Linked DNA regions of Homo sapiens. The protein of the gene in region 2 interacts with the protein of the main gene of each other region in a biochemical or structural test. Each region holds a gene or a part of one and is shown on either strand. Other genes may lie near its edges.

Evidence for each region.
Region 1: of the proteins of PRKX (region 2) and SMAD6, one has a biochemical effect on the other in vitro, tested with the Homo sapiens proteins (one study listed by IntAct).
Region 3: the proteins of PRKX (region 2) and PRKAR1A form a complex in vitro, tested with the Homo sapiens proteins (one study listed by BioGRID).

Annotation. Positions count from the first base shown.
Region 1 is NC_000015.10:66,697,800-66,705,235, reverse strand, and holds the start of SMAD6 (mothers against decapentaplegic homolog 6), read right to left. Parts: upstream 3,001-7,436; 5' UTR 1,978-3,000; coding exon 1,161-1,977; intron 1,145-1,160; exon of another isoform or gene 1-1,144. UniProt on the Homo sapiens protein: Transforming growth factor-beta superfamily receptors signaling occurs through the Smad family of intracellular mediators. SMAD6 is an inhibitory Smad (i-Smad) that negatively regulates signaling downstream of type I transforming growth factor-beta.
Region 2 is NC_000023.11:3,666,474-3,677,504, forward strand, and holds part of PRKX (cAMP-dependent protein kinase catalytic subunit PRKX), read right to left. Parts: intron 8,294-11,031; coding exon 8,125-8,293; intron 1,720-8,124; exon of another isoform or gene 1,461-1,719; intron 1,014-1,460; exon of another isoform or gene 809-1,013; intron 1-808. UniProt on the Homo sapiens protein: Serine/threonine protein kinase regulated by and mediating cAMP signaling in cells. Acts through phosphorylation of downstream targets that may include CREB, SMAD6 and PKD1 and has multiple functions in cellular differentiation and epithelial morphogenesis.
Region 3 is NC_000017.11:68,518,404-68,529,434, forward strand, and holds part of PRKAR1A (cAMP-dependent protein kinase type I-alpha regulatory subunit), read left to right. Parts: intron 1-4,352; coding exon 4,353-4,523; intron 4,524-5,321; coding exon 5,322-5,413; intron 5,414-5,612; coding exon 5,613-5,674; intron 5,675-6,508; coding exon 6,509-6,555; intron 6,556-7,350; coding exon 7,351-7,509; intron 7,510-9,436; coding exon 9,437-9,497; intron 9,498-10,466; coding exon 10,467-10,588; intron 10,589-11,031. UniProt on the Homo sapiens protein: Regulatory subunit of the cAMP-dependent protein kinases involved in cAMP signaling in cells.

The DNA.
Region 1 (7,436 bases), on a different chromosome or scaffold from region 2:
TGCACCATCCTAGACCCACTTTCCCCTTCCACACAGAGTCAGGAGACCTACAACCTGACCCTCTCTGTGCTCCCAGCCTGGGTGCTGACTCTCCCCAGGGAAGCCAGAATGGAGGGATTCAGAGCCCTCCCAGGCTCAAGAGCCTGTGACTCCCTGCCAGTCCCACCCCTGCAAAACCCCAGTGCCAGCTAATGGATTCCCATACATCCCTCAGAGGCTAGCTACAGGCTAAAGTGTGTGTTCCCCACAAGACAGAGGTCAGAGCAAGGCAGCTGCAAGCTCCTGGCCTGCTGGAGCCTCCTGACCTGCTGGGGCCTCTGCCTGTCTGCACCTGAGCACCAGGGCCTGGCCAGGTAAGCAAGGCTGAGGGTGGGGCGTGTGCAGGAAATCCCAAGAGGAGAACAAAGAAGGGGGGCAGTTCTCAGAGGTAATCCAGTATCTGGCTTCTTCATCTACTCACGGATGCCTCCAAGACCCTAAACTCTATACAAAAGCTGAACACAAAACTTGAGAAGGACTATGGAAGACCCTGGCACTTGACACCCAAGGGATGTGGGGAATGATATTATGTGGGGAATAAAGAGGGTGCTCTTTACTCCAGAGAGGGGTTACCCTGCAAAGCTTTGTCGAAAGTATGCAAAGGCACAAATTGGACATTTGACGAACACTTTTGATTCTAGCTATGATTTGTGTACACCCAATTTCACAACTTACAGCTACTTGGACATAGAAAAGCACAGTGTGGGTAAGGGCACGTGCATACAAATGCTAGAAGCCTGGGCACAGACTGGGGTAGATTCCGGAATTGAGGTAGGAGGAAATAGCACCTACTTCTTTGGTCTCTCCTTGGCCTGCCCTCCCCTTTCACTGCCTATGAAGTTGGAGCCTACATCATGTCCCTGAAACTGCACAGAGAAAACTACGACATGTACCCTTTTAAGTTTACCGGAGCCTTGAGATAAAGTTGCCACTTGATGTGTGTGCTGGGACACCCACTCCCCTCGGCCGGTCTGAGGCGCCTCCCCTGGTGGCTCCCACGCTCCAAGGGCACCCGGGGGAGCACCCGCAGCTGCGCCGACCCGCAGTGTCACAGAGAGAAGGGCACGGAAGGGGATGGGGACGGGGACCCGGGGCCCCCCCGGCCGGCGCAGCGCGCTCACCGGGCCCGCAGAGCCGGCTGAAGTGGTAGGGGTTGCAGCACACGGTAGGGCCGTCGGCGGCGGCGGCGAAGCTGTGGCAGCCGCACAGGGGCTTCAGCTCCACGGCGTGCTGCAGGTCGGGCCAGCGAAAGAGGCGGCCGAGCAGCAGCTGCGGCGGCGCGGGCTGGCCGCCCAGGCGGAGGTCGGCGCGCGGCACCAGCACGCAGCCGCCCGGCACGCCGCCGCGGGACTCCACCGCCTCCAGCAGCGTGTCCAGCGAGCGCTCCTTGAGCCGCTTCAGCAGCGAGTACGTGACGGTTTTGAGTTCCTGCTCCAGCAGCAGCAGCCGCGAGCGCGCTTCGCGACTCCGCCCGCCGCCCGCCGGCTCCAGGGCCGCCCCGGCCAGGGGGTCGCTGGCGTCCCGGGGCGCGCCGGCGGCGTCCCGCTCCGAAAAGAGACAGCAGGTCACCGTCTCGCAGTCACTCTCGGGCAGCCAGCCCGGGCCTCCCGGCTCCGCCACGTCCAGCAGGGAGCTCCCAGCGCCGGCCCCTGGCTCCGACATGGGCCTCGGGGGGCCCCCTGCGCGCCGGCGCCTCCCCGCGCCCTGGGCGCCTCGCTGTCCCACTGCGTCCCGGGGCCGCCGCGGGGCTACCGGGCGGACTTCGGAGCGGCCGCAGCCTCCGCCCTCTCTTGCCCGCGGGGCCGGCTCAGCTCGGCTGCCCAAGCTCCCATCCTCGTCGCCGCCACCGCCGCCGCCGCTGCCGCCTTCCTCCCGGTCGGGGACCACACGACTTCGCCAAAGTCGCCGCACCAGCCCCGAGCGTTTGGACCTGAACATACGATATCCTTTGGCGCCAGGGGTGGGGGGGAGGCGGTCTCCGGTTACCGGGGGTCCGTTCCCTCAGCGAGGCGCCGGCTGCGCGGGTCGCAGCCCCACATGAAGCTCCGCCGCGGAGCGCCGTGCAGACCGCGCACAGCCTGTCGTCGAAGGGGCGCCGCAGGGCGACAACATGAGGGAGCTCGCCGAGGCGGGACGGCCGGGAACACGCGCACGCCGAGCCGCAGTCCGCGCGCGGCCAGCGGCTACATGGACCACAGCGGCGGGGCTGCTCAACAACTCCAGCCCCCGCGCTTTAGGGGGGCTGCAGGCGGCGCGCCGCCAGAAAGACCCCACATGGGCCGGCGAGCCTTCAAAAGTTGTGCGGCTGGTCCATGAGCACAAAGCGCTCGCGCGAACCCCTAAATGTGTCTGGAAAGCCCTGCCTTTACCTTGCCTTTTTTTTAAACCAAAGCGCTTAACTACATGGGCTTTTCCCGCAGGATCCGAAAGGCAGGCTTGTTGATACCCCCAGCTCCCTTCTTACTCCCTGCAAAAAGAAAAAAAAAAGGAAAGAAAGAAAAGGAAATCCCAAACAAAACCTAAATCCCTGGATTTGCATGCACGAAAGGCCAACGCCGTCTCAGGTCCCAGGCGCTAGATGCACTTGGAGCGAGTTTCTCCTGGACGCGGGTGTCAACACATGAGTGGAAGCTGTAAAAATCCCAAAGAGCTGCTGGGAATCCTTAATTAAAAATGCAGTCCACCGATGCAGAGGTCGCAGCCCGCCCCACGCTGCCCTCGGACGCTTCGTGCGCCGAGGCTGCCGAGGTCGCCCCCCCTCCCCCCTCCACAAAAGTGCCTCCCGGTGGCCCCGGGGTCCCAGCGAGGTCTGGCGAGGCAGCGCCCGGCGGCTCTTTCTCTCGGCTCAGCTCCCTCGATCGCTCCCCCGCTCGGCTCTCTCTCTCTTTTTTGTTCTCCTCAAACGCACACTGAGGGCCCCCGGAGGAGCGCCGCGGAGTCATTGGCTGCCTCCCATCATATGCCAGTCTAGACACTTTGGCGGCTCCGCGGCGCTGATTGTTGCGCAAACAAGGTTTCAAGTTTCTTAACTCTTAAAGGAGAACACGTCCCATTGCAGGGCCGGAGGCTCCAAGGGGCCGGCTCCCGGGGCGGGCCGAGCTCGGGCCCCCGCCCCACACCACCCCGGCACCCCCGCCCAGGGCCTGACAGCGCCCGCGGCCCGCTTTCTGCCTCGCGTTGCGCCCAGAGCACGGATGCGAGCGAGCACACACGCGCGCGCGGACACACACACACACACACACAGGGTTACACGAGCCACGAGCAGGCGCGCAAGGCTCGGCGGACCCACTGAGACTCGGACGCAAACGGGGCGCTTTGCCTCTCCCTGGCTTGTGCACAAACTTACAAACACACTTTGCACTTTAAAGTTGTTCCAAACCCCCATCCTAGGGTAGGCTAATAAAAATGGGTGTGCATGTGTGCCTTCCAGGGTTGAGCCTCTGAGGAGCAGGGGGCGGCGGATATGTTGGGGTAGCGGATCTTCCGTGACTGCACTAGGGGCTCTACGCTCCTTGCACAAAGTCGGGGGTCGCTCTGCCGGGCCAAACAGGGAGCTCAGGACGCTTTGCGTACGGTGGCTCCAGGCTCGCCCGGAGTGGGGAGATGGAGAGGGTGGGGTAGAGGCGGGGAGTGTCTACTCGCTGGCTCCTCTCGGTCGCCACGGCCCTCCCTTGGAGCGAGGCGGGCCGCCGGCCGGCCGGGCCCCCTCCAGGCCGGGTGCTTCCTCTCCCTTCTCAAGTTTACTCTCCGCACCTCGGAGAGGGCTGTAGGTGAGGGATCACGCTTTCCCTAGAGAGGTTTCCACGCGAAAATGGGGGTGGGTTGGGGGCGGGATCGGGGGCGCGGCGGCAGCAGCCTGACGCCCGGCGCGGGAAGGGTTAAGGCCGCTCCTGCCCCTGGAGCCGGCGCGGCGGGGTACCTCCTCGGGCGCGCTCGCTAGTCCGAGGGTGGCAAAAGTTCAAGCTTGTAAAGTCGGGATTGGTCCCGCGCGGAGGGGAAAAAAGGCCTGGGCCCCCCTCCCCCCCCGGGCGCGGCGCCGATTGGCCAGGCAGAGGGGCCGGCCCCGCCCTCTCCCCCCGCGCGCGGCGGCCCCACCCCCGGCGCGGCGCCCCGCCCCTTTCCGGGCAGGAGCCTGGCCCCGCGCTGAATGAAAGAAATTCCGCTACTCTCATTGGCCCGGGGCTGGGCGCCATTCCCCCGCGGTGACCGCGGGGCGCCGGCGGGCGGGTCTCCCTGGAGAGTGACCACGCGTGGAGCTAGCCTGGGGAGTGCGCGGCGGTGCGAACCCCCGGCCGTGCCCAGAGTCTGTGTGCGCTGGGGGAAGGGTGGCATTTGCAAGGAGGATTCAGAACCCTTTGCTGAGCTTTACCTGGAACCAGGTACTGTTCGCGCTGCGCTCTCTGAGAGTGGCCGTTGCTCCCCGAAAGAAAGATCGGACTGAGACACTTCCTCACACCCATCCCCTACTACTTTGGCCAAATTAAAGTAGCGGTCCTAGCCTCAGTTTCTTGTTTGAAACCGCGGATGAGGATGCTTGCCCTTCGTGCTTCACAGAACCACGAAGGTCCCTGGAGATAGTGCACGTTAAATGCACAAATCGCAAGCGAACAGCAGGATGAATTTTCACACGTGAACAAACACACATGATGTCACCAGCACCCAAAAAGCAACCTGACCTGCACCCCAGAAGCCTGTCTTGTGGCCCCTTTCAGTCACTTTTCGCCCATGGGGAAATTAATACATCTTAAAATACAAACAGAAACTCAGTGTATTTTCTTTTATCCCCGTGTATGCTCTTTGTGGATTATCTTTGACTGTGTATTACAATAATAATAGTTCGTGCGTATTGAGTCGTTACTATGGGCAAGGCAATGTTCCAGGACTTAGTTAACGCTCACAACACTTAACATAGGTACTATTATTATTAATATATAAGGACTTAACATAGTTACTATTATTATCTCCAGTTACAGATGAGGAAAACTGAGGCACAGGAGCTCACTCATGTAACTTGCCACTAAAACGAGGATGACATTGACAATGCTAACATGCTAAAACCAGAGAGGCATGAACCAGCACGCCTGCTCATCCTCTGGCTGGAAGTGGTGTGTAGGTCTGTGATGCCAGACTATACTCTTTAGGCAGGGATTTCCAAAATGTGGTTCAAAGGTCCACCTGCTGAATCAAAGTGTCAGGGGTTGAGGCCCCAGAATACAACGTTTTGGGGATAGCTGTGGTTGTTAACACCATTTTATTTTTATTTTTTATTTAATGTATTTATTTTTTTGAGACAGAGCCTTGCTCTGTCCCCAGACTGGAGTGCAGTGGTGGGATCTCAGCTCTGCACTCAAGTGATTCTCGTGCCTCAGCCTCCCAAATAGCTGGAACTATAGGCATGCACCACTATGCCCGGCTAATTTTTGTATTTTTAGTAGAGACGTGGTTTCACCATGTTGGCCAGGCTGGTCTCGAACTCCTGACCTGCCTGAAGTGATCCGCCTGCCTCGGCCTCCCAAAGTGTTGGGATTATAAGCGTGAGCCACCACGCCCGGCCTGTTACCACCATTTTTTGCTTATTTTTTGAGACGGAGTCTCACTCTATCCCCAGCCTGGAGTGCAGTGGTGCGATCTTGGCTCACTGCAACCTCCACCTCCCGGGTTCAAGTGATTCTCCTGCCTCAGCCCCGCCAAGTAGCTGGAACTACAGGCATGCGCCACCATGCCCAGCAAATTTTTGTATTTTTAGTAGAGACGGGGCTTTACCATGTTGACCAGGCTGGTCTCGAACTCCTGACCTGCCTGAAGAGATCTGCCGGCCCTAGCCTCCCAAAGTGTTGGGATTATAGGTGTGAGCCACCACGTCCGGCCTATTATCACCATTTTATAGATAAAGACACTGAGGCACAAAGGCTTGCCAAAAGTAACTTGCACAAGCTTATAATTAGTAGCCGATGCCGGATTAAAACCCAGCCAGTTTGGCTGAAGAAGGGGTATGCTTGTGTAATGGGAAGCAAAGGAAATGGGCCGGGCAGGAAGGATTACCAGCAGGTAACCTGCAGGACCTCCTGAGGGCAGGGATGTGTGTGCTTCTACAGATGCTCAGCACGTACCCCTAGGGGCTCCCTTCTTCCCACTTCCACCCCCATGCCTCTCTGAGGTACCATGGCATCCCAATCTGCAGAGTTCCTGGGGAAGTGCCCTGAGAGATGCCCCAACAGCCTCAGACCAAGGAGAGATTGAAGCAGTGACCTTTCTGGGGGGATCTGCCTTCTTTGCTGGGCAGTAATGGCAAAATCTGGCATCATCTCTTGCTCACTGGGAGATGTGGCATCGTTCCTGATGTGCTCAGGAACGATGCCACCTGAAGCTCACTGAAACCAGAGTCCAGTGGGCCTAAATTCAGTACTGACCCTACTTACCTCCCTCAACTTTATGAGCCTTGGGATTCTCATCTGTGCAGTGGAAATAAGAATCATGCTGGAGGTGGCTGACAAAATTAAGTGACAAGAGGACCTAGAAGCAGCCCTCCTTACAGGGCCACTGCATCTGAGTGGAGATAATGTCAGGATGGGAAGAGCAGTGACAGTCCTGCTGTCCTTGGATTCCTAGGGCCCATCCAGCCTAGTGCCTGGCATGCGCTGTGGCCACTAGAGGGTGTGTATGGCGGGGCCCAGCAGGGCAGGGCTATGCTATGACCTAAGTACACCCTCCCTCGAGGCTGCCAGACTGGAGAGCAAGCTCCAAATCCCTAGGGATGTAGAGAAAAGAGAGGAAAGGAAGAAGGTGGGGTCCCTGATGCTTATCCACAGGTCTCTGCACCCGAGTTACTCACAAAGTAACTCACAAGTAACTCTGACCCCCTCAGATTCAAATGTGTCCCCACTCTCTTATTCCAGTATTTTCCCCAAAGCACTCTATGCTTCCTCTTTACTGGGCTTGTCCCAATTCAAAACCGTACAATCTTTTATCTGTTCCCCTCTACCTTTGGGATGTAAGCTCCACAAGGGATGAGATGGTGAAAGTAGCAGGCCCAGGCCACCCACAGCAGCGTGGAGGCAGTGGAGTCAGAAACAGGCCATTTGATGCCATTCTGCCTGTGCCATTGAAAAGCTAAATCACATAAGACAGCACTTGCCCCATTTCTTCTTCCTGGTCCCTAATTCAATGCCTGTCACATAGTGGGCACTCAATAAATATTTGTAGAGTGGTTGAAATAAAATCCCCCACTTAACTGAACTCCATACTTATCCCTGTGCCAAGCACATCAGTATTTCATCATATCCCCCCAACAACACAGTGAAGAAGGTTTTATTCTTCCTAGACCCATATTTTTAGAGGAGGAAACAGAGAGGTTAAGTAATTTGTTACAGATCACACACCAAGTAGGTAGCAGAGTT
Region 2 (11,031 bases):
AAATGGTTAAAATGAGGCCGGGCATGGACGCTCATGCCTGTAATCTCAGCACTTTGAGAGGCCAAGGCAGGAGGATTGAGTGAGATCAGGAGTTTGAGAACAGCCTGGGCAACAAAGCAAGATCACATGTTTGCCAAAAATTAAAATATTAACTGGGCATGGTGGCATGTGCCTATAGTCCCAGCTCAACTTGAGAGCCTGAGGTAGGAGGACTGCTTGAGCCTGGTAGTTGGAGATCAGCCTGTGCAACACAGCGAGACCCTGTCTCTACCAAAAATTAAAAAATTAGCCAGGCGTGGTAGTGCGCACCTGTAGTCCCAGCTACTTGGGAGGCTGAGGCAGGAGGATCACCTGAGCCCAGGAGGTTGAGGCTGCAGTGGGCCATGATTGCACCAGTACACTGCAGCCTGGGCAACAGAGCAAGACCTCATTTCTTTTAAAAAAAAAAAAAAAAAAAAAGGAAGTTAAAATAGTAAACTGTTATGTGATATATGTTAACAAAATAAAAAAATTAAATTTTAAAGAATGTTTTCCAGCATAGAGAGCAATCTATGAATCTATGAACGGGGGGAAAGTCAACATGAAGAAAGAGTCAATGTCGTCAACAACGACTGAGACAAGGGAGGTTTCCAAGTCCCCTCCCCATCCTCTCCAGTGACCTCAGCTGAGCAGCTCTGTCCTCATCTTTAGCTGACAGCAGCACTTTTCCATCCGCGAAGCTGATCTGCAGTCTTTTATTTGCAGGGTCTGCGGGGATGGCTTGTCCTCTAAGGGATTTTTTTGCTTTTGTTTTTGTTTTTATGAACAGGCAAATCAGCCTCACTAATTTGGAGACGCCTTACCGTAGAAGTTGGTCCTCCTCTCTCCAGAGCCCGCCATAAAGCTGGGCTTTTGTGGTGAGAAGAAGAAAATGAGCCATCCTCATCCCATCTCCTCCAACATCTATGCCATGTGAGGCTCCAGAACGGCTCTACTTTCCGACCTGGCTGCACTGCAACTAGCCCTTAACCAAGGTGACCTAGCAGCCCTCGGTGGCTCCATCCACCTGTGGCTTCCTCCCTCCAAGGACCCTGCCTCAGGCTCTCTTCTGAGACAGTTGCTGCAGATGTTTTGCCCTCAAAGTTTCCCAAATTGGAATGCACTCTCTCTCCCTGGATCTCCTCACTGTCCAGCAGCCCAAATGCACAGCTGAGCCAGAGCCAGTCCTTCCTTATATGCACAGCCGAGCCAGAGCCAGTCCTTCCTCATACCCCAGTCCCCATGGCAGTCTCCTACACATCTGGGTTCACTGCATTCCTGTGTCCACCTCCTGGCTGAACTCAGATTTGAGTTTCTCCCCCATGTCCCTCCTGCCCCGTAGTGACCCATGGCTTCCGTGTCACTCCCTGTCTAGAATGAGTTTCCACCACCCACCCCTTTCAGCCAATAAACCCCTACTCCTCCTGCAAAATTCTCCTTAGGTGTCCACTGCGTCTTCACCCCCTACCTCTTGCCCTCCAGAGCTGGTAAGGCCCCTTTTCCACGTATCGCTGGGACTCTTCTCACCCTACGCAGTTCTCCTTAGACCAAGGCACTGGAAGGCTTGGCATCAAATGGAAAACTCCATTCAGAAGACACTACAGTTGCATTCTCTTGCAAGAACTTAAACCTCCCTTTTCATACATAGAAAAAGGGAATCAAGGTAAAAAATAATAAAAAAGAAAAATATAGATAATAAAATAAGCCTCCCTTTTTGAAGCGTCTGCTTTGCCCCAAATACTAAACATGCAATGTATCATTTTTTGGACAAAGAAGAGGAAGAGAAGACCCAGGAGCTGCCTGCCTTCACTCTGGTCTCTGTGCTTTGCAGGCAGTGATGACAGAGCAAGAAGCGCTATTTCTAGATTTTTGCCTTTAAAATTCAAATAGAGAGCAAAATAAATAAATAAATAAAAGGAGAGAACATGGTGTTCTTTCTTCCTGAACTCTCAGTAAAACAAAGGAATGATTTTACTCCTACCCCCAACAAGTACCAATGACAATGGGGACCACACTCAAGTCTGCAGACTTTAAAAAAAGATGTTTCCAAGAGATGCATCCACTCTCCCCGAAGAAGAGGTTCTGGCATGAACTCCTCTCCATGGAGAAACGAGCGGTCATCCAGGAACTAGAAGGATGTGGCCCGGAGTGGAGAGACCTCTTGCCTTCCAAGTTCTGTAGAAGAAAGCTGGCTAAGCCCTGCAACCACAGACCAAACCCACTGGCTTGGCTCGGCTGCTGTGCCATAGATAATATGGCACTGGAACCACTGTTTGGCCCATAAGCCAATCAATCATGACAGAAGAGTGGGGCTGCAGGCTCAGGGGCTGGGGCAGAAAAGGGAGAAAGGGACTCCACACGCACAGGTATTTATCTGTCTGTGCATCCGCTACAGTGGGTGTCAATGGAGCTGATTCTGCTCCCCACAATAAACACTGGACAATGTCTGGAGACATCTTTGGCTGTCACGCTGGAGTGGGGGTGCTAGAGGCATCTGGTGGGTGGAGCCCAGAGACATTGCTCAGCACCCTACAGTGCACAGGGCGGTTCCACCGCAGAGAATCCTCCAGCCCCAAATGTCAGCAGTGCTGAGGTTGAGAAACTCTACTAATACGTTCCATCATCAATCTATCAATCAATCACCTATCTATCTCAATATCTATCAACCATCTACCATCTATAGCTACCAGCTATCTATCAATCAGCTATCATCTATAGCTATCATCTATCAATCACTTATCTAATATCTATCAACCATCTATCATCTATAGCTATCATCTACCTCAATATCTGTCATCTATCAAATATCTGTCTCAATGTTGATCTCCATCCATCCATCCATCCATCCATCCATCCATCCATCCATCCATCCATCAACTATCTGTCACAGTGGTTCACAACTGGGGATAACTTTTTGTCCCCCCATAGGGGGAACTTAGCAGTATCTAGAGACATCTTTAGATACTCGTCATAGATGGGATGGGTGCTCTTGGCATCTGCTGGGTGGAGTCCAGGGACGCTGCTCAACACCCTACAGTGCACAGGATGCCCCACCACAGAGTCCTCCATGATCCCGCCCCATGTGTCAGCACTGCTGAGGTTGAGAAACTCTCTTTTAGCATGAGAGCTCTGCCTACATGCAATCGGTCATTAATCTATCAATCAATCACCTACCCACCTCAATATCATCTATCATCTATAGCTGTATATATTAGTATCTATTATCTATCACCTATCTTAATATCATCTATTAGCTACCCATCATCTATCTACTCACCTATCAATCACCCATCATTTACACCTATCTTAATATCTATTATCTATCACCTATCCATCTCAACATATACCTACCTATCGTATCTATCATCTCTCTCTGTCCGTCGTCTGTCTATCACAGTGGTTCACTAGTGGAGAAAACTTTGCCCTCCCTCCCTGAAGGAACACTTGGTTATGTATGGAGACATTTCTGCTTTTCATAACTGAGGTTGCTGCTCCTGGCCGCTGGTGGGTGGAGCCCAGGGACACTCCCCAACACCCTGAAGTGTGCAGGACGGCCCCACCCCAGAGACTCCTCCAGCCATAAATGGGAGGCACCTCCGCTGAAAGTCCTCGTTTTATACCTTCATCAAGAAGTCCAAGGCCTAAAACTGCCCGTATGGGAAGCAGATGTTGAGCAAGGCAACTTACATTTAGAAGAGAAGCTGCACAGCTGGGAGGATGAAATTCATTCTTCACAGAGGATCTAGGATTCTCCTCTAAGACATGCTCCTCAGCATGCAACGTTGGACACCCTCCAGCATCTTATCCATGGGGCTGGCCAGACCCGGCGTGCTCTCTCGTGTTATGTACAGGGAATGCCAAGTGTCTGAATGCACTGGATCAACTTTAATCCAGTTCTTAAAGCCACTTGGTCCCTAAAGTGTTAATGCACAGAAAAAGCAAAATGCTATAGCAGGTTATCATAATACTGCAGGGCACCGAAAGATCAATTATCAGCAAGTCACTAAGGCGGTCTCATGGGCTAAGTTACATCACCCCCTCCAAGTCTACATTGTTTTTCGGATTCTTTTTTGAGACAGGGTCTTGCTCTGTCCCCCAGGCTGGAGTGCAGTGGCACAATCTCGGCTCACTGCAATCTCCGCCTCCCAGGATCAAGCGATCCCCCTACCTCAGCCTCCTGAGTAGCAGGGACTACAGGCCCCCCCACCACACCCAGCTAATTTTTGTACTTTTTGTAGAGACAGGGTCTTGCCATGTTGCCCAGGCTGGTCTCAAACTCCTGGGTGCAAGGGACACTCCCACCTCAGCTTCCTAAAATGCTGGGATTATAAGTGTGAGTCAACATGCCCAAGTGGCAAACTCATTTTCTGTCATTTTTTGGGAAAAGTCACCTGTAAATTGCTATCACCATTAAGTCTTTAAAGGCTCATTGTTGACAATCACTTCCCTAGATCCAAAACTTTTCATGAGAGCTGTGGACTTCAGGGCCTGCCTTGTTTTCTGCACTATTTCAAAATCAAAGAACTGTATTTATTTATTTATTTTTATTTATTATTATTTTTTGAGACAAAGTCTTGCTCTGTCACCCAGGCTGCAGTGCAGTGGCACGATCTTGGCTCACTGCAAGCTCTGCCTCCCAGGCTCAAGAGATTCTAGTGCCCCAGCCTCCCAAGTAGCTGGGTTATAGACGTGCGCCACCACGCCCAGCTAATTTTTGTATTTTTAGTAGAGACAGGGTTTCCCCATATTGGCCAGGCTAGAATTTTCTTTTTAATTTTTTTTCTTAAGAGACGAGATCTCACTATGTTGCCCAGGCTGGTCTGGAACTCCTGGTCTCAAGTGATCCTTCCGCCTTGGCCTCCAAAAATGCAGGGATTACAGGTGTGAGCCACCGAGCTCGGCCCCAAATCAGAGAATTCTGAAATGAGCCCCTGCCATGTTCTCCCAAAACACTGAATAAAATCCTCCCAAGAATAATATCGAAAGTGGCCTTAAATTCCATGTAGACTTTAAATGATGAGGAAAAATTCATGCTTTTTGGCAACACCACCAGGCGGACCTGACATACAAATAACAGCTCACATTCGACTGTAACCAGCACTCGGAGGAGCCGGTGAGCTGTACGGGCAAAGGACAACCCATGAAGCATCCAAAATGTCCTCTTCAAAAGCTGTCACGGTGCAGAGAAATTTCACTCCTTAAAAGTTAGAAATAGGCCAGGCACGGTGGCTCACATCTATAATCTCAGCATGTTGGGAGGCCGAGGTGGGAAGATCATTTGAGCCCAGGAGTTTGAGACTAGCCTGGGCAGCAAAGTAAGATCCCATCTCTACAGAAAATTTTAAAATGAGGTAGGTGTGGTGGTGCACACCTGTAATCCCAGCATGTCAGGAGGCCAAGGCAAGTGGATTGCTTGCAGCCTAAAGTTCAAGACCAGCCTGGGCAACATAGCAAGACCCTGTTCATAGAGAAAAAACAAAAACATTATCTTCACCAAAGAGGTTGTGAAAAATATATACATATGTTTTTTAAAAATTAAAAATAAATAAAAACATTAGCAGGGTGTAGTGATGGGTGCCTGTAGTCCCGGCTACTCTGGAGGCTGAGGAAGGAGGATGGCTTAAGCCCGGGAGGTTGGGGCCGCAGTGAGCTGTGATTGCACCATTGCACTCCAAGATGGGCCACAGAGCAAAACCCGTCTCTAAATGTAAATCTATATATATACTTTTTTATATAAAAGATAAAAATAAACCAACATAGGTAACTTTGAATAGAATTTCTAAAGTCTCTAGGGCTTTATATAAGACTTAAGAAATATAAACGACTTTGTTCCTTAATTGAAAGCAGGGAATATCAAAATCAGAATCCACGTCCCTGCAGGAATGCACCTTATCTGCCAAGGAAAACAGTCTTGAGCTATCCTGCCTTGAAGAAAGGAGAACTACCTAACTAAAGCTCTGTTCTACAAGCTCCTCCCTATTTTTTAACTTGCGGGAGCTCAAGAATTCCATCCTGGGGAATTCTCTCACTTGTATACTCCACCCACTCCCATGTCCATGCGGTTCTTCTGTGGGATTTTAGATTTCTGAACTGTAGAGTACTCAGGAGCCCATCGTCTCGGCTGCTCTCCTGCTCCAGGAGGCGCAGGGGGTGTGTGTGAGTTCCTCAGGGCTATCATTAACAAAGTACCACAAACTGGGGGTTGGGGTGGAGGGACGCGGCAGACAACAGACATGCATTCTCAGTCCAGGTGCAGGGGCTGACACCTGCAATCCCAGCACTTTGGGAGGCTGAGGCTGGAGGACTGCTTCAGGCCAGGAGTTTGAGACCAGCCTGGGCAACACAGCAAGACTTCATCCTACAAAAACTTTTAAAAGTTGGTCAGGCATGGTGGCATATACCTGTAGTCTCAACTAGTTGGGAGGCGGCAGAGGCTGCAGTGGGCCATGATTGTGCCACTGAATTCCAGCCTGGGCAAGAAGGAGTGAGACCCTGTCAAGAAAGAAAGAGAAATGCAGAAAGGAAGAAAGGAAGGGAGGAAGGGAGCCACCGCGCCCATCCTCTGCATATGATTTTGTTCGGAGCTTAGGCAGCATTGGGTCTAGAGGAGAAGGCAGGTGCACTTGTTCCAGTACACACGAGGTGCTTCAAGAACATGATGGGAGGCACCCTGTGTCCCGGGGACAGCAGGTGAATGAGGGAAAACAGGTAGGTGTTTCTTAGATGGGGGAAGTGAAGGACAATGATGAGAGCAAAGAAGGAGGCCTGTCAAAGAAGGGTGGCCTGGGAGAAGCCCCGGAATGAGTGTGTGAACAGCACCTTCTACCTTCTCCTGTAGGGAGGTGGTGGCAGGGGGCCAGTCCACGAGGATACTGGTAGGAGGATGCTGCATTGCTGGGGCTTTATATGGGATACTTCAGGAGTACCCTGAGGATGAAAGGAGAGAGGCAGGTCATTGCAGAGGTACCTGGGAGGACCAGTGAGGCTATAAAGTGAGGAATGTCTTCAAGGGGAGCAAGGCTGGGAGAGAAAGACCAGGTAGGAGGGAAGCCAGTACAGAAAATCAGGGCAGAGAGACGGGACCCAGATAAAGCAGAAGATGGATAGGTGGACAGGAGAGGCATGGTAGCAAGATGGCGGAGGGAAGACGTGGGAATTGGATGGAAGGCACCCATGGAGGGAAAGGAGAGACACGCAGGACATCCTTGTCTAAGGCATCTGGGTGGAAATGGAATTACCCTGCTGGAATGGTCTGAATATCTTGTGTCCTCCCAAATCCCTATGTTGGATCCTCACCCCCAAGGTGATGGTGTTAGGTGTTGTGTCCTTTGGGAGGTCATGAGGGTGAAGTCTCATGAATGGGACGAGTGCCCTTATAAAAGGGACCCCAGAGAGATCCCTCACCCCTTCCACCATGTGAGGACACAGTGAAAAGGCGCCATCTATGAACCAGGAAGCGGGTCCTCGCCAGACACTGAATCCACCGTGTCTTGATCTTGGACTTTCCAGCCTCCAGAACCATGAGGCAAATGTCTGTCATTTGTAAATTACCGAGTCTAGGATCCTTTGTTATAGCAGCCTGAATGGACTATCACACCTACCCTAGGACATAAGACTGTTGTGTACCATCAGCTGGAAGTGTGTGGGCTGCATCTCAACGGGGTATCTCTCATCCACAGTCAACCAGAAACCCAACGAAACCTGAAGCCCAGCCCCGTCCACGTGACTGTGGTCCCTTAAAAACCAACTTAACCAGTTCTGCCGAGAGCTATAGATGCAGAACCCAAGGAGGTGAGGAGACAAAGATTTCTGCATCCTTTTCCGGGCAGAGATACTTGGTTCACCCAGGAGAGGAGCAAGGGGCCTTGGGCACGGACTTCTGAACACAGAGCGTTTCTTTTTGGACCTGGTCAGCCATGGAGGTCAGGAGCCCTGGAGGTATTCCAGCTCTAAGATCAGAGGCTGATAAGACCTGACAGGTGGAGACTGCTGTGGCCTAAGGCTTTGCACGCAGGCCATGGTCTCGGCCCACCCAGCTTCTTATAAGAAGAGACACACAGGGGTCTAGGGAGAGTGCGTGGGGAGAGGCTTCAGGAGGGGACTCACAGCCTGATGAGGAACGGGTGGCTGACTTCCTTCAGGACAGACTTCTCATTGTGTACGTGTTGCTCCTGCTTTAGGCGGATGACGTCGGGAATGCTCATCACCTTGAGGGCGAAGAAATGCTTGGCTGTCTTCTCCTTCACCAGGTGCACCCGCCCGAACGTCCCAGTGCCTGGAGAGAGAAGAAATCGACAGAGGTCATTAAGTCTTCCGACAAAGGAAGAAACCACCACAGCCATGCAATCAGCGGGGGGCTGCACCAGGACGGCAAACACAGACCCCAAGTGAAACTTTCAGAGACTTTGTGTCATGGTGCACGTGGGCTGATGGCATTTAGTGAGAGGCGCTCACCTGGAATTTTCCACTGAATACAGAAATTGCAGAGAGAGAAAGAGGGAGAGAGAGGGAGACAGAGAGAGCCATCTGCCTCTGAATGGTTCCTCAATTTGGGGACAAACTGGCCATAATTTCTGCAGATCAGTCTTCGCACACAGCACACCCACACGCCCCACACACCCACATGGAGAAGCATTAGAGTAATAGTAAATGTATTTATATAACATGCCTTTTTCTCTTCAGGCTCTCTGGTTTTATCAGAAATACAGACAGGGTGTAAAACACACAGCCCTCCTCAACACGGCTGTTTCCTTAACGCACATTAAGGCTTGCTCAAAGTACGGAGTCCGTATTCTACAATCTGGCGTGGGTTGGGATGAAGTGCTATATAGGTGCCCACAAACAGAAAACAAAACAACAACAACAACTGCAACCACTACAAATATAAAAGAAAACCAATAGCTCTACTGTATTCTGCTGGGACATTTTCAATCCAAACACTCTCTTCTCCTCCTTCCCCTCCTCCATCTCTTCCTTCTCTTTTTTCTCTTCCTCAATCTTCTCCTCCTTCTCTTTCATCTCTTCCTTCTCCTCTACATCCTTTTCTTTTCCACTTCTTCCTCCTCCTCCATCTCCTCCTCCTCTCCCTCCTCTTCCTCCCACTGGGGTGCATGTAAATGAAGAAATCTAATAGTCAATGAGATATAAAAGAAAATCAAAATCTCTAAACAAGCTTTGCTTGTTCCTCCTCCTCCTTTCTCCTCCTCCCTCTCCTCTTCTTCCTCTTCATCCTCCTCCTCTTCCTGTAACACACTGATCCTACAAGGTGTGCACGTGTTCACGCACATATTGAAATATTCTTCACGTAGCATAAATGTTCTTGGGTTAATGGAACGAATAGTGCAGTGGCGCCATCACAGCTCACTGTAGCCTCTACCTCCTGGGCTCAAGCAATCTTCCCGCCTCAGCCTACCCAGTTAATTTTTGTACTTTTTGTAAAGAGGGGGTCACACTGCGTTGCTCAGGCTAGCCTTGAACTCCTGGGCTCAAGTGATCCTCCTGCTTCGGCCTCCCAAAGTGCTGGGACTACAGGCATGAGCCACTGCAACTGATGCAGGATTTCTAGAGTATCCCTAAATTGCCTTTGACGTACCTTGATCCCAGCGTCAGCAGCCCCTTACTGACATGCAAGTCATTCCTCAGCAATATTTTTAAACAACGCATTCACAGCTGCAGACAGAGATGAGCAACTAAAACAAAACTGCCCTCCCGTATTATGTGATCACACCCACCCCAAACAGCAGAGAGGCTTCTCAGAAACTGACATTCAGAGAAAGGATGGTTTGGAAGTGTATCCTTCTGAGGAACCAACATCTGTTGACGAGCAAATCTCACCGATCAATATTGATCCATTTACCTATCCATTCATTGGCTGGTACTCCTGTGCCTGCTTTATGCTAGATTGCAAAACCCAAGAGAACCAGGATCTTCCAGACACCTGCACTCCCATGTTTATGACAGCACTATTCACAACAGCCAAGGCGTGGAAACAACCTCAGTGTCCGTCCAAGGGCAAATGGATAAAGAAAACATGGTACATATACACGATGGAATACCATTCAGCCCTAAAAAAGAAGGAAACTCTGGCATTTGCAGCAACATGGATGGAACTGGAGGCCATTATGTTCAGTGAAATAAGATAGGCACAGAAAAACAAATATTAAATATTGCATGATCTCACTTATACAAGGAATCTGACATGGCTTGGCTGTGTCCCCACCCAAGTCTAATCTTGAAGTGTGGCTCCCATAATCCCCACGTGTTGTGGGAGAGACCAGGTGGGAGGTAACTGAATCATGGGGGTGGGTTTTCCCATGCTGTCCTCCTGATAGTGAATAAGTCTCACGAGATCAGATGTTTTAATAAATGGGAGTTTCCCTGCTCGGGCTCTCTTCTTGCCTGCTGTCATGTAAGACGTGACTTTGCTCCTCCTTTTACCTTCTGCCATGACTGTCGGAACCTCCGCAGCCATGTGGAACTGTGAGTCCATTAAACCTCTTTCCTTTATAAATTAACCAGTCTCAGGTATGTCTTCATTAACAGCATGAGAATGGACTAATGCAGAATCTACAATAGTCAAACTCATAGAAGCAGAGAGTAGAGAGGTAGTTATCAGAGGGTAGGGCTTGAGGGGGAAGGGGAAATATATTGGTCAAAGGATACAAAGTTTTAGTTGAACAAGATAAACCATGGAGATCTACCATACACCTAGTTCATATAGTTAACAATACTGAACTGATAAATGAAATTTTATATATAAATAGCTCACATATACAATAGTAAAATTGTATATATGAAAATTTGCTTAGAGGGTAGATCACATTATATTGTTTTGTCTTTTTTTTTTTTTTTTTTTGAGACAGGGTCTCTCTCTGTTGCCCAGGCTGAAGTGCAATGGCACAATCAATAGCTCACTGCAGCCTTGACCTGCCAGGCTCAAGTGACCCTCCCACCTCAGCCCAAATAGTTGGGACTACAGGCGTGCACCACCAAGGGCGGATAATTTTTTAAATT
Region 3 (11,031 bases), on a different chromosome or scaffold from region 2:
TCTAGGGGGAGGTTCCCAAACCTCAGTTCTTGACTTCTGTGCACCCACAGGCCCAGCACCACTTGTAAGCCACCAGGGCTTGGGGCTTGCACTCTCTGAAGTAATGGCCAGAGCTGTACCTTTTAGCCAAGACTGGAGCTGAAGCAGCTGGAACGCAGGGTACCATGTCCTGAGGCTGCATAGTACAGGAGCCCCAGGGCATGGCCTAGGAAACCATTTTCCCCTCCTAGGCCTCTGGGCCTATGATGGGAGGGGCTGTCCTGAAGGTCTGTGACATGCCCTGGAGACATTTTCCCCATTGTCTTGGTGATTAACATTTGGCTCCTTGTTACTTATGTGAATTTCTGCGGCAGGCTTGAATTTCTCCCCAGAAAATGGGATTTTCTTTTCTATTGCTTTGTCAGGCTGCAAATTTTTCAAGCTCTGCTTCCTCTTGAATGCTTTCCTGCTTAGAAATTTCTTCCACCGGATACCCTAAATCATTTCTCTCAAGTTCAAAGTTCCACAGATTTCTAGGGCAGGGCCAAAATACTGCCAGTCTCTTTGCATAGCGAGAGTCACCTTTACTCCAGTTCTCAAGTTCCTCATCTCCATCTGAGACCACCTTAGCCTGGACTTCATTGTCCATATTACTATCAGCATTTTGGTCAAAGCCGTACAAGAAATCTCTAGGAAGTTCCAAACTTTCCCACATTTTCCTGTCTTCTTCTGAGCCCTCCAGACTGTTCCACCCTCTTCCTGTTACCCAGTTCCAAAGTTGCTTCTGCATTTTTGGGTATCCTTGTAACAGCACCCCACGCTCTGTGTACCATTTTACTGTATTAGTCTGTTCTCATGCTGCTAATAAAAGACATACCCAAGACTGGGTAATTTATAAAGGAAAGTGGTTTGACTCACAGTTCCTCATGGCTGGGCAGGCCTCGGGAAGCTACAATCATGGCAGAAGGGGAAGCAAACACATTCTTCTTCACATGGCAGCAGCAAGGAGAAGGGTCAAGCAAAAGGGGGAAAAGCCCCTCAAAACTGTCAGATGTCATGAGAGCTCACTATCACCAGAACAGCATGGAGGTAACCACCCCTGTGATTAAATTACCTCCCACCAGGTCCCTCCCACAATATGTGGGGATTATGGGAACTATAATTCAAGATGAGATTTGGGTGGGGACACAGCCAAACCATATCAGTCTGAAAATACAGTCATATTCTCATCACCTTCTTCGTCATTACTGGGGGGTTGTGTTTCTGTTACCTTCAACTACTCCATAAGAAATGTACCAAAAACTCTTGACAGTTGGTCTTTTGAAAGCTTCTGCATTTTAATTCAGTCATCTGGAATTTGAGTCTTCTTTTACTCTTGTATTTATTAGACCCTTAGGTAAGAGGAATTAAAATAACAGTGACCTTGTGTCTGCTGTGTCAGGTACTGTGTGAAGCACTTTATATACATAAATACTCGTTATTTCAAATGTACGAGGTATGTGATTTTCAGCATTTTATAGACATAGCAGTAAAACTGAGAGAAATTAAGTAATGTGGCTGTGGTTATAGACTGTAGTCGTCAGCTTTTGCTGGAGCAACATACAACCCCCAAATTTCAGTGGTTACTACAACAGACCAGTCATGTGCAGTTCTTCTGGTATCAGCCTGTCTTATGTTCTTGACACCACATATCTTGTTCTGGGGCTGAGCAGAAGGAGCAGCCCTATATAGGGCATGCTGTTCTCAAAGCAGAGGGAGGGCAGAAGCTCAAGGTGGACAGAGCCAAACCACACAGGCAACCATGGTATGGCATGTCCACTTACATTCCATGGCCAGAGCAAGTCCTGTAGCCAAGCCTTAAGTCAGTGGGGTGGGAAGTATACTTTACCCACAGGGAAGAGTGACAGAAGCAGGGAGGGAACAAATAATCGGGAAAACATAGTAGTGGGGACAGAATTTGAACCTAAGAGTCAAGAAGATAGTGCAGAATTTAATGCAAAACCGAATGCAGAATTTGAACCTCAGAGTCAAGAACATAATTAACCACTGAGTAGACTGGGAGGTTTTTTCTAATTTTTAATTTTTTATTGATATATAACATTTGTATGTTTTTATGGAGTACATGTGATATTTTACAGGCATAGAATGTGTAATGATCACGTCAAGGTATTTAGGTTATTCATCACCTCACTTAAAGAGCTGAGGAGGAAGGAGACTGACAGAAGGATGACAACAGCAAGAGAAAGGATATAAAAATATATCATAGTATATACTAGAAAACTCATGATCTGAGTAATGGCTCTGAGTTGTCAGATTAGGTTATATTCAGATTGCTGTTTTTAAAAGACTCACTAGAATCCATGAGACACTGCTAAAATCAGAATGCTTTTGTTACTTCAAAATTAATCTTAAAAATTCAGTGAAGTAGAATGTAGTCCCAAGTGAAATGTTATTTGTGAAATTTTTCCTGAAATTTTTGTGAAATGTCAGTGACAAATTTGGGGGTGGGAGAATTTGTGTTTTCATTTATACTCTTAAACTGTGTGTGTGTTTTATTTTATTTTTATTATTATTTTTTTGAGACAGTCTTGCTCTGTCACCCAGGCTGGACTGCAGTGGTGCAATCTCGGCTCACTGCAACCTCTGCCTCCTGGGTTCAGGCGATTCTCCTGCCTCTGCCTCCTGAGTAGCTGGGGCTACAGGTGCCTGCCACCACACCTGGCTAATTTTTGTATTTTTAGTAGAGATGGGGTTTCACCATAATGGCCAGTCTGGTCTTGAACTCCTGACCTTGTGGTCTGCCCACCTTGGCCTCCCGAAGTGTTGGGATTACAGGTGTGAGCCACCATGCCTGGCCTATTTTTTGAGACAGGATCTCACTCTGTTGCCCAGGCCTGAGTGCAGTGGTGCGATCATGGCTCACTGCAGTCTCTACCTTCCAGGCTCAGGTGATCCTCCTGCCTCAGCTTCCCAAGTAGCTGGGACTACAGGTGTGTGCCACCACGCCCAACTAATTTTTATGTGTTTTTGTAGAGATGAGGTTTTACAATGTTGCCTAGGCGGGTCTCGAACTCCTGGACTCAAGTGATCTGCCACCTTCGGCCTCCCAAAGGGTTGTGATTATAGGCGTAAGCCACTGTACCCAGTCATGTATTCTTAAACTTTAAACTTGGGAGAGACTTGAGTTTTATACCTGTGTTAATATGAAATGAGAAAACCTTACTGGTTATTGGAACAACCAGAATTAACATGAAATGAGTTTTCTAAAAACCATATTTTAAAAAGTAGGTTACATATTCACATATTTCAAAGTTGTGCAGGTACAAAGGGGCATAATAATGAAAGGTCTCCCTCCCACGCCATTGCTTTTCTTGAATGCTGCCAATGTTCTGGAGATTAATATATGGGCACTTACAAATTTATATATAGAAAAGAAATAACGGGTCAAATGAATGAGAAAGTAGAAGATAACACATTTTTATTTTTTCCCTTTTACTTCAGGCACAACAACTAATTCTTTAGATCTGAGAGGAATTTGTTTTTAAGGCTCTAGATGTGAAAAAAGGAATGTTTAATAGTTTATCTTAGGTTTTATTTGAATTGGTCCAATAAGTAGTTTTTAAAAGCAAGTAAACTCTTTTTGTCTTTTAACTTCAAGTTTAAACCTTGATTACAAAGAGTGATCCTAGCTCTGCTGGGAGAAGTATTATAGATACGATCTCGTTTAAATTCGTGGTTACCATCACATCATTTCATTATTTGTTTTTATCTGGGATCAAACTGGAATGTGAATTCCACAGGCTCAGGACCCTCTCCTATTTGTTTTTAATTTCCTGTTGCCTAGCATAGGTCTTGGCCTGGCAGATCCAGAAAATGGCTTATTGAGTTAATGAAATAACTCAGTAATCTAGACATTCTTGGATCACTATGTTGGGCTTGAATTGTTTTTCCTGATAACATTTCTTTTGGCAGGAGGGTCTCTTGCTATCTGCAGTAGCATCCAAAAAAACCCAATTTTCAGGATTTTGTCTTGCAGTGTGTTACTGTTGTGTGCATCACAGATAATTGTTGTCAAGACATTAATGAATATCTGATTTGTTACTCACATGTTATGTGAGTACTAATGGCTTGTACTAATGACTTTTGCCCATTAATAAAGGATAGCATCTGTTATCATCTGAGGTACATTCTGTTGAGAGTGTTTCAAGTGTTACTCTCTTTTTTTCCCCTTTGGAATTGGTGTTTTCCTCTTAACTTACATTGTTAATGGAAGAAGAGATTGGAAGTGACTGAGATAGACTATCATTGGAACATGAGAGTGCCAGCTTTACATGCCGAAGGATCTCATTTTGCAAACTCGTAATTTCTTTCAGGAGGAGGCAAAACAGATTCAGAATCTGCAGAAAGCAGGCACTCGTACAGACTCAAGGGAGGATGAGATTTCTCCTCCTCCACCCAACCCAGTGGTTAAAGGTAGGAGGCGACGAGGTGCTATCAGCGCTGAGGTCTACACGGAGGAAGATGCGGCATCCTATGTTAGAAAGGTAGTTTTGATATTTGAATATCGGGGGGATGCTTTTGGGACCCACTTGGTGGTCATCTAGTCTCCTTTGATGAATGAATCATAAAATACAAAACAGGGTGGAACTTCATCCATCCTGTACAATTCTTGGGTACTGGAAAACAGGTTTCTGTAATAGCATGCTGTCAGAGGAAATAACTAATAGTGATTATGAACTAGTGAATAATTGCATTTTGGGGTTTGTTATTTCCTTGCAGTTGTTTTGCAGTAGAAGGAGGTGGGCGGTATTGCTTTTTCTCTTGAATCGTGATGTCCTTTTTTTGCTATCCTATTAAATGTTGTGGCTTTTAACCTTTTATTCTACGAGCCTCATTTGTCCTGTGTTCTCCTCTTCCTCAGAGCCAGGCTATTTTGAGTTATGCTGTTAGCCTTAAAGGGGAACAGAATTGTCCTGGCACTTGAGGCTTGTGAAGCTAACAGATCACAGATTTTTAAAATGACTAATTATTATAAAATACTTAGTTTTGCCTCAGAATAATGACCTTGGTCCAGGTGTTTTGATTTGTTTCTTTAGTTGTTAACTGGGAACCAAGTACCAGACTTTATATTTAGGCCTGGCTGTAGGCAAGGGGATTAATTAGTCAATACTTGTTGAGTAGTTTATGGATCAAAGATAGTACAAGTGTGTTGTAGTGAAACACTACAAAGCAGTCTTGTTTAAATACCATAATGTGGCTTGACATTTAATTGAAGCGCAGGTTGCAAACGTGAAATGTTTTTGGTTTATGGAATTGTCATTTGACCTTCAGTTCTTTTCTAGGTTATACCAAAAGATTACAAGACAATGGCCGCTTTAGCCAAAGCCATTGAAAAGAATGTGCTGTTTTCACATCTTGATGATAATGAGAGAAGGTAGGAACAGGCTCTTTCTTAACACTATTTTTCAAGTAAGGGTGTGATCCCAAATTGTTTTCAACACTTGTTGCAAGTTTTAGAGCTCTTAGTAATTGTTCACCAGATGACAGTCTGGGGTCTTTAATTCTAAGCTTAATGTTTGAAATTCACGGAAGAGACATGTGAAATGTAACACGAGGCCTTCTCTCTTTTGCAGTGATATTTTTGATGCCATGTTTTCGGTCTCCTTTATCGCAGGAGAGACTGTGATTCAGCAAGGTAAGGGCCTCTGGAGCATGCAATATTGTTACGGGAGAGGAGGCGAGACTAGAGGATTTTTTTGGTTTTGTTTTATTGAAGTTTGTTTTCCTCTTTGATCCTACCACTTTTTTTTTTCTGTTATACTATTGGATTTTTCTATTTCTTTTAAATTAAGATTTTCTGAGATGGACAGAACACTTTGTATTGGGAACTAATATTTTTGATACAGTTTTGTTTATAATTTAAAGGAAATGCCTACATTGTCTTACCTTGAATGTCATATAGAATTGCAGAATCATATATATCTCTCATGTTCTTTATATTGTTAATCACTTTTAAAGTAAGAAATAAATGAAACACCTACATTCTTCATTGTATAGCCCTGTCTATTAAAAAGGTTCTAGGACTTCTATAGATTCTTACTTTGCCTATATAGACTAACATGGATCTAACTTTTTGACTATCTTCCTCTTTTTATTTTCTTATTTATTCTTGACATTTTATGAGTGGGTATATATTTTCATTTTGTGGCAGCCTGATAATTTGTTATTAACTATTTGAGTTGTTTCTAATGTCCTTGTTATAAATGCCATAGCAGTTAATAACTACACATATGTAGCTTTTAAAAATTTTTTTCAGAGGTATTCTTCACCATGAGATGACTAAAAAAATTTTGATTAATTCTATGACTTTTAAAATATGTTGCTTGATTTTCTTTCCCCTGAAAGATTGTGTTAGTTTGTAACACACTCTCACAGTACCACTGTAAAATAAGTTTATTGTTTTGTAATAATTTTGATAATTTCTTTCTTTAATTTGGAATATGCTTCTAACTTTTTTACCCTCTTTTAGGTGATGAAGGGGATAACTTCTATGTGATTGATCAAGGAGAGACGGATGTAAGATTTACCAATATCAAAAATATGTTGATCTTAAAAGCCAATGTATTGATCGCTTCCGAGCAATAAGAATAGTGATTTTGAAGGGTCATTACATCCCTTGTATGTCAGATTTTATTAATACCTTTTGCCAAGTATTTTTATGACACAGAGAAACTCTTTAAAGGTAATTTTCTGTTCAGAACTTTGCTGGAGTGGTGGTGAAGAAGTGTGTGTAGCTGGGTGCAGTGGCCGATGCCTATAATCCCAGCACTTTGGGAGATGGAGGCAAGAGGGTTGCTTGAGCCCAGGAGTTCAAGACCAGCCTGGGCAACAAAGTGAAACCTCATCTCTTAAAAAAAAAAAAAAAAAAAGATTCTAGACCCAGCCATTAGCTAGCAAAATTAATATACCTTTCTTATTCACAAATGAAATGGGGACAATAATAGCATTGATCTTTTAGGATTATTAGAAGATTCAGTGACCTAATGCAAGTAAAATGTTTAGCATAGTGCTCAGCACGGTTCTCTAAGTATCTGTGACTGGTATTAGTGCTTAGCTGACCTTTTTCCCTTACATCCTTACAGAGTGCTTTTTTCTTATCAGATAATTAAATCAGGTAAATTATAGACACTCTTAACTCATTTAACTCGTCAGAAATCACCTATTCTTCTCTGTTGTGTACTGCAAACATAATATATTCTGTTTTTTAAAACAAAGTTCAGGATTGTGACCTTTTAAAAAGGTTTGAGGGTTTTTAACATTTAAGTGTTTGTATCTAGAAAATAAACTTTTTTGATGTCACTTGCACTTTAGGTCTATGTTAACAATGAATGGGCAACCAGTGTTGGGGAAGGAGGGAGCTTTGGAGAACTTGCTTTGATTTATGGAACACCGAGAGCAGCCACTGTCAAAGCAAAGACAAATGTGAAATTGTGGGGCATCGACCGAGACAGCTATAGAAGAATCCTCATGGTAAGAGACCATGGTGTTTGAGAGTGTGATTTAGAATTCTCATCTACGTAACTAATGTTTGAATATTACCAAATTAAAAAGAGAATATTTCTTTTAATGAGCAAATATTTCTTTCTTTTAATAAGCGAATATTTTTCTTTTAATGAGCAAATACTTTGCATTAAGCCCAGCTTAGCATTATTCATTATGCCATTTTAGGCAGTGATATTTTAGAACAAAACCTTGGGAAACAAGATCTGGTATATATGTGCTGGTCATCTCATGTTTGGAAATCTATCCATTTGCTGGTAGGCACATCTTAATTTACCTAGTTATACCCATTACAGCATGATAGGTGCTGCTTTTAAGTGCTTAAAGTTATTTGGGGCCATTCAGAAATAATCAGCTTCCCTAACCTGTGAAAGTGGGTTATCAGTAATGTATATGTATGTCATGTCCCCTCTCGTTAAAGGAATAAACAAAATACTAAAACCATTGGAACTTTCTGGTGATAGTCAGATTTTTTGAGAACGTTGTGATAAATTTATAGGATAGCTTTGGATGTTTAAGTCTCAGCCAATGCATTGGTCATTTTTAATGGTTTTCTTAAATTTGTGCAGTGTCCATCTGACCATTTGAAAATGTACAGCCTGATGTACTTTGAAATTTTTCTGCATTTGGGATATATAGATAGATTAGATTAGATAGATAGTCTTGTCCTTCGCAGCAACATAGATAGAGCTGGAGGCCATTTTTCTAAGCAAAATAACACAGGAACAGAAAACCAAACCACATGTTCTCACTTACAGTTGGGAGCTAAGCAATGAGAACACGTGGATACTAGAAGGGGAACAACAAACACTGGGGCCTACTTGAGGGTGGAGGGTGGGAAGAGGGAGAGGATCAGGAAAAATACCTGTGGTGTACTTTACTTATTACCTGGGCAACAAAATTACCTGAACACCAAACCCCTGTGACACCCAGTTTACCTATATAACCTGCACATGTACCCCTGAACCTTAAACCCACACACACAAAAAAACGCTTATGGCAAAGATAAGTCTAAATTTTAGAAAGATTGGTTTTGAAGTGATGTGACAGTCTACTGGAGAAGAAACTGACCATACAGTTAGTTCTGCATTTCCTCTACAGGAATACTATTAGTAAAAGGAAACATAGAATGTTTACAGCTTTATCTCATTGTCAAAGAAGGAAGAGGTAGGACCTGGAACTATTGGTTTGAAATAAAATATTTTACTTTCTCATAGTGGGCCTGAAAGGAAATTAGGGCCTCACAATGCTTTGGCTTTGTGGACAGGAATTAGGAACTGTAGATATGGGGTGAAATATCTATATAGCTGGGTAGGGGAGGATATGGTCCTTTTTTTATAGAATAAAGACATGTCAATTGTATAGGTGAGAAGCCAGAACTAATGGAGGAATCTGCATTTAAATACCAGCGTTGAACAGGAAGAACACTAGGATTATTGGGTTGTAAATGACCTAGATTACTTTTGTGAGAAAATATTTTCAGAGATAAATTGGGTTGGCAGTGGCACAAAATCAGTTTGAGAGTAAACATGGAAATTGGACATTGGTTTAAAGTGTGTGGAAAAATATCTTGAGTGATAGGCTCAGGTATAAACCGGTATTTCGACTGTATTTGGAAGTTGGGAAATGCTTTGTGAAATATGTCAACATACTGGTTGCAAATGCTAGGAATTGGGCATAATATTGGCGGAAAATAAAAATCACAAGAATGTCATATCATTCATTACCTGTAAAATAAAAATGAATTAGTTAAAATTAAACTTTCCTCATTAAAAGCAACAAGCTTTGACTTTCTGGTTTTAAAATTTATTTGAAACTTAATATTTATTATTCCATAGCATTATGTGGTGATAATTACACGTCTTGGGGATATCACTTTTGTTATTTTTATTTTTAGGGAAGCACACTGAGAAAGCGGAAGATGTATGAGGAATTCCTTAGTAAAGTCTCTATTTTAGGTGAGTTGTAAAGTGTGTTAACTTTGCTAGTATGTGAGATACCCCTGAATTAGAATTGGATGGACTTGGGAAAAGCCTTCTGAAAGTATAATTGCTACTCATTCCCCCTGAAAAGACAGAAGGGCTGAAAGTCCTTCTGACTGTGGACATTCACAGTTATTTCCTCTGTGACTTCCCGTCTCTCTTGTTCCATCATTGAGTTGATTGGTTCAGAAAAGTGAGTACTTCCAACAATACATTTCCTCTGTGGAAAGATTAGGTATCATTTGCTGGCATCCTCTGAAAACATGCCAGAAGTTTGTTGAAATTTAGAGTAAAGCAGATTAATTGAAGATATTCTTTTGTGCATTTTGTTATGTGGACTTGGAGATGTTAGAACTTGTTCTTCATGAAAGGGGAATGGGGATTTTTATAAGGTAACAGGCTTCTGCCATTGTTTATTACAGTGAATTTTTCACCTCTTCTTTGTCTTTTCTTTGAATTGGTTACATATGCTTTGTGTTTTGGATAGTAGTTTGGCCTTTGGGAATAAAAGTTATTTTCTAGTTCTTTTTCATAAAGTAAACCAAGAATTTAAATAGATTAAATTATTTCTATGAAACTTTGGAACGATATGGATGGGGAAACTATGACTTTTGAGTATTGTAGTTGTAGGTTTGATTTGCATTGATGGCAATCTTCAGGAATACTTAAGGATTACATTTTCTTATTCCCTTGCCATTTGGTACAGTTGGTATAAATTAACCTAGCCACTGGGCTACCGAAGTAAGGATCTAAGGGCTATCTGCAGGCAGTATGAGAATCCTGCTCAGACTAGAGGTAATTGAAGACAGGTACCACTTTTAATCTGAGACACTACTAGAATGTTGAATGGGCATGGCTATTTGGTTGAATCTCTTTATACTTTCTTTTTACCTTTATAACAGCACCAAATAATACAGAGCAGTTATTTTGATTCTTGTCTTTCAGAGTCTCTGGACAAGTGGGAACGTCTTACGGTAGCTGATGCATTGGAACCAGTGCAGTTTGAAGATGGGCAGAAGATTGTGGTGCAGGGAGAACCAGGGGATGAGTTCTTCATTATTTTAGAGGTAAAGAACTCAGAATTTAATACTTGAATTTTAGAGGTAAAGAACTCAGAATTTAATACTTTAAAAAGTTGTACGCTCTAAGAGGGAAAGAGTGGGCTAATTCTGAACTATAGCTTTAGTTTTTAAGAATACCTGACCATTTTATTTTAAAATTATCTTTTACTTTGAAATGCTGTTGTTTGGTTTTCTGCCAGGTCACTATATTTTTAAATGAGTTTGAGTCAGAATTCTTGAAGGGCCCTAGACATGAAAAGCCAAATTCTAAAAACCATTTAACATAACAAACTGTGATGATTCTGCACTATTCTTGTTAAAATGCAAGTGTTTGGGCTATTTGGCAAATAAGGATTAAAGGTAATTATTTAAATTTGAAAAATTACTGTGTTTGTATATCTCCACATTCCATGGAAATGTATAGCAGATACTCTTGCTAAGCGGATCCA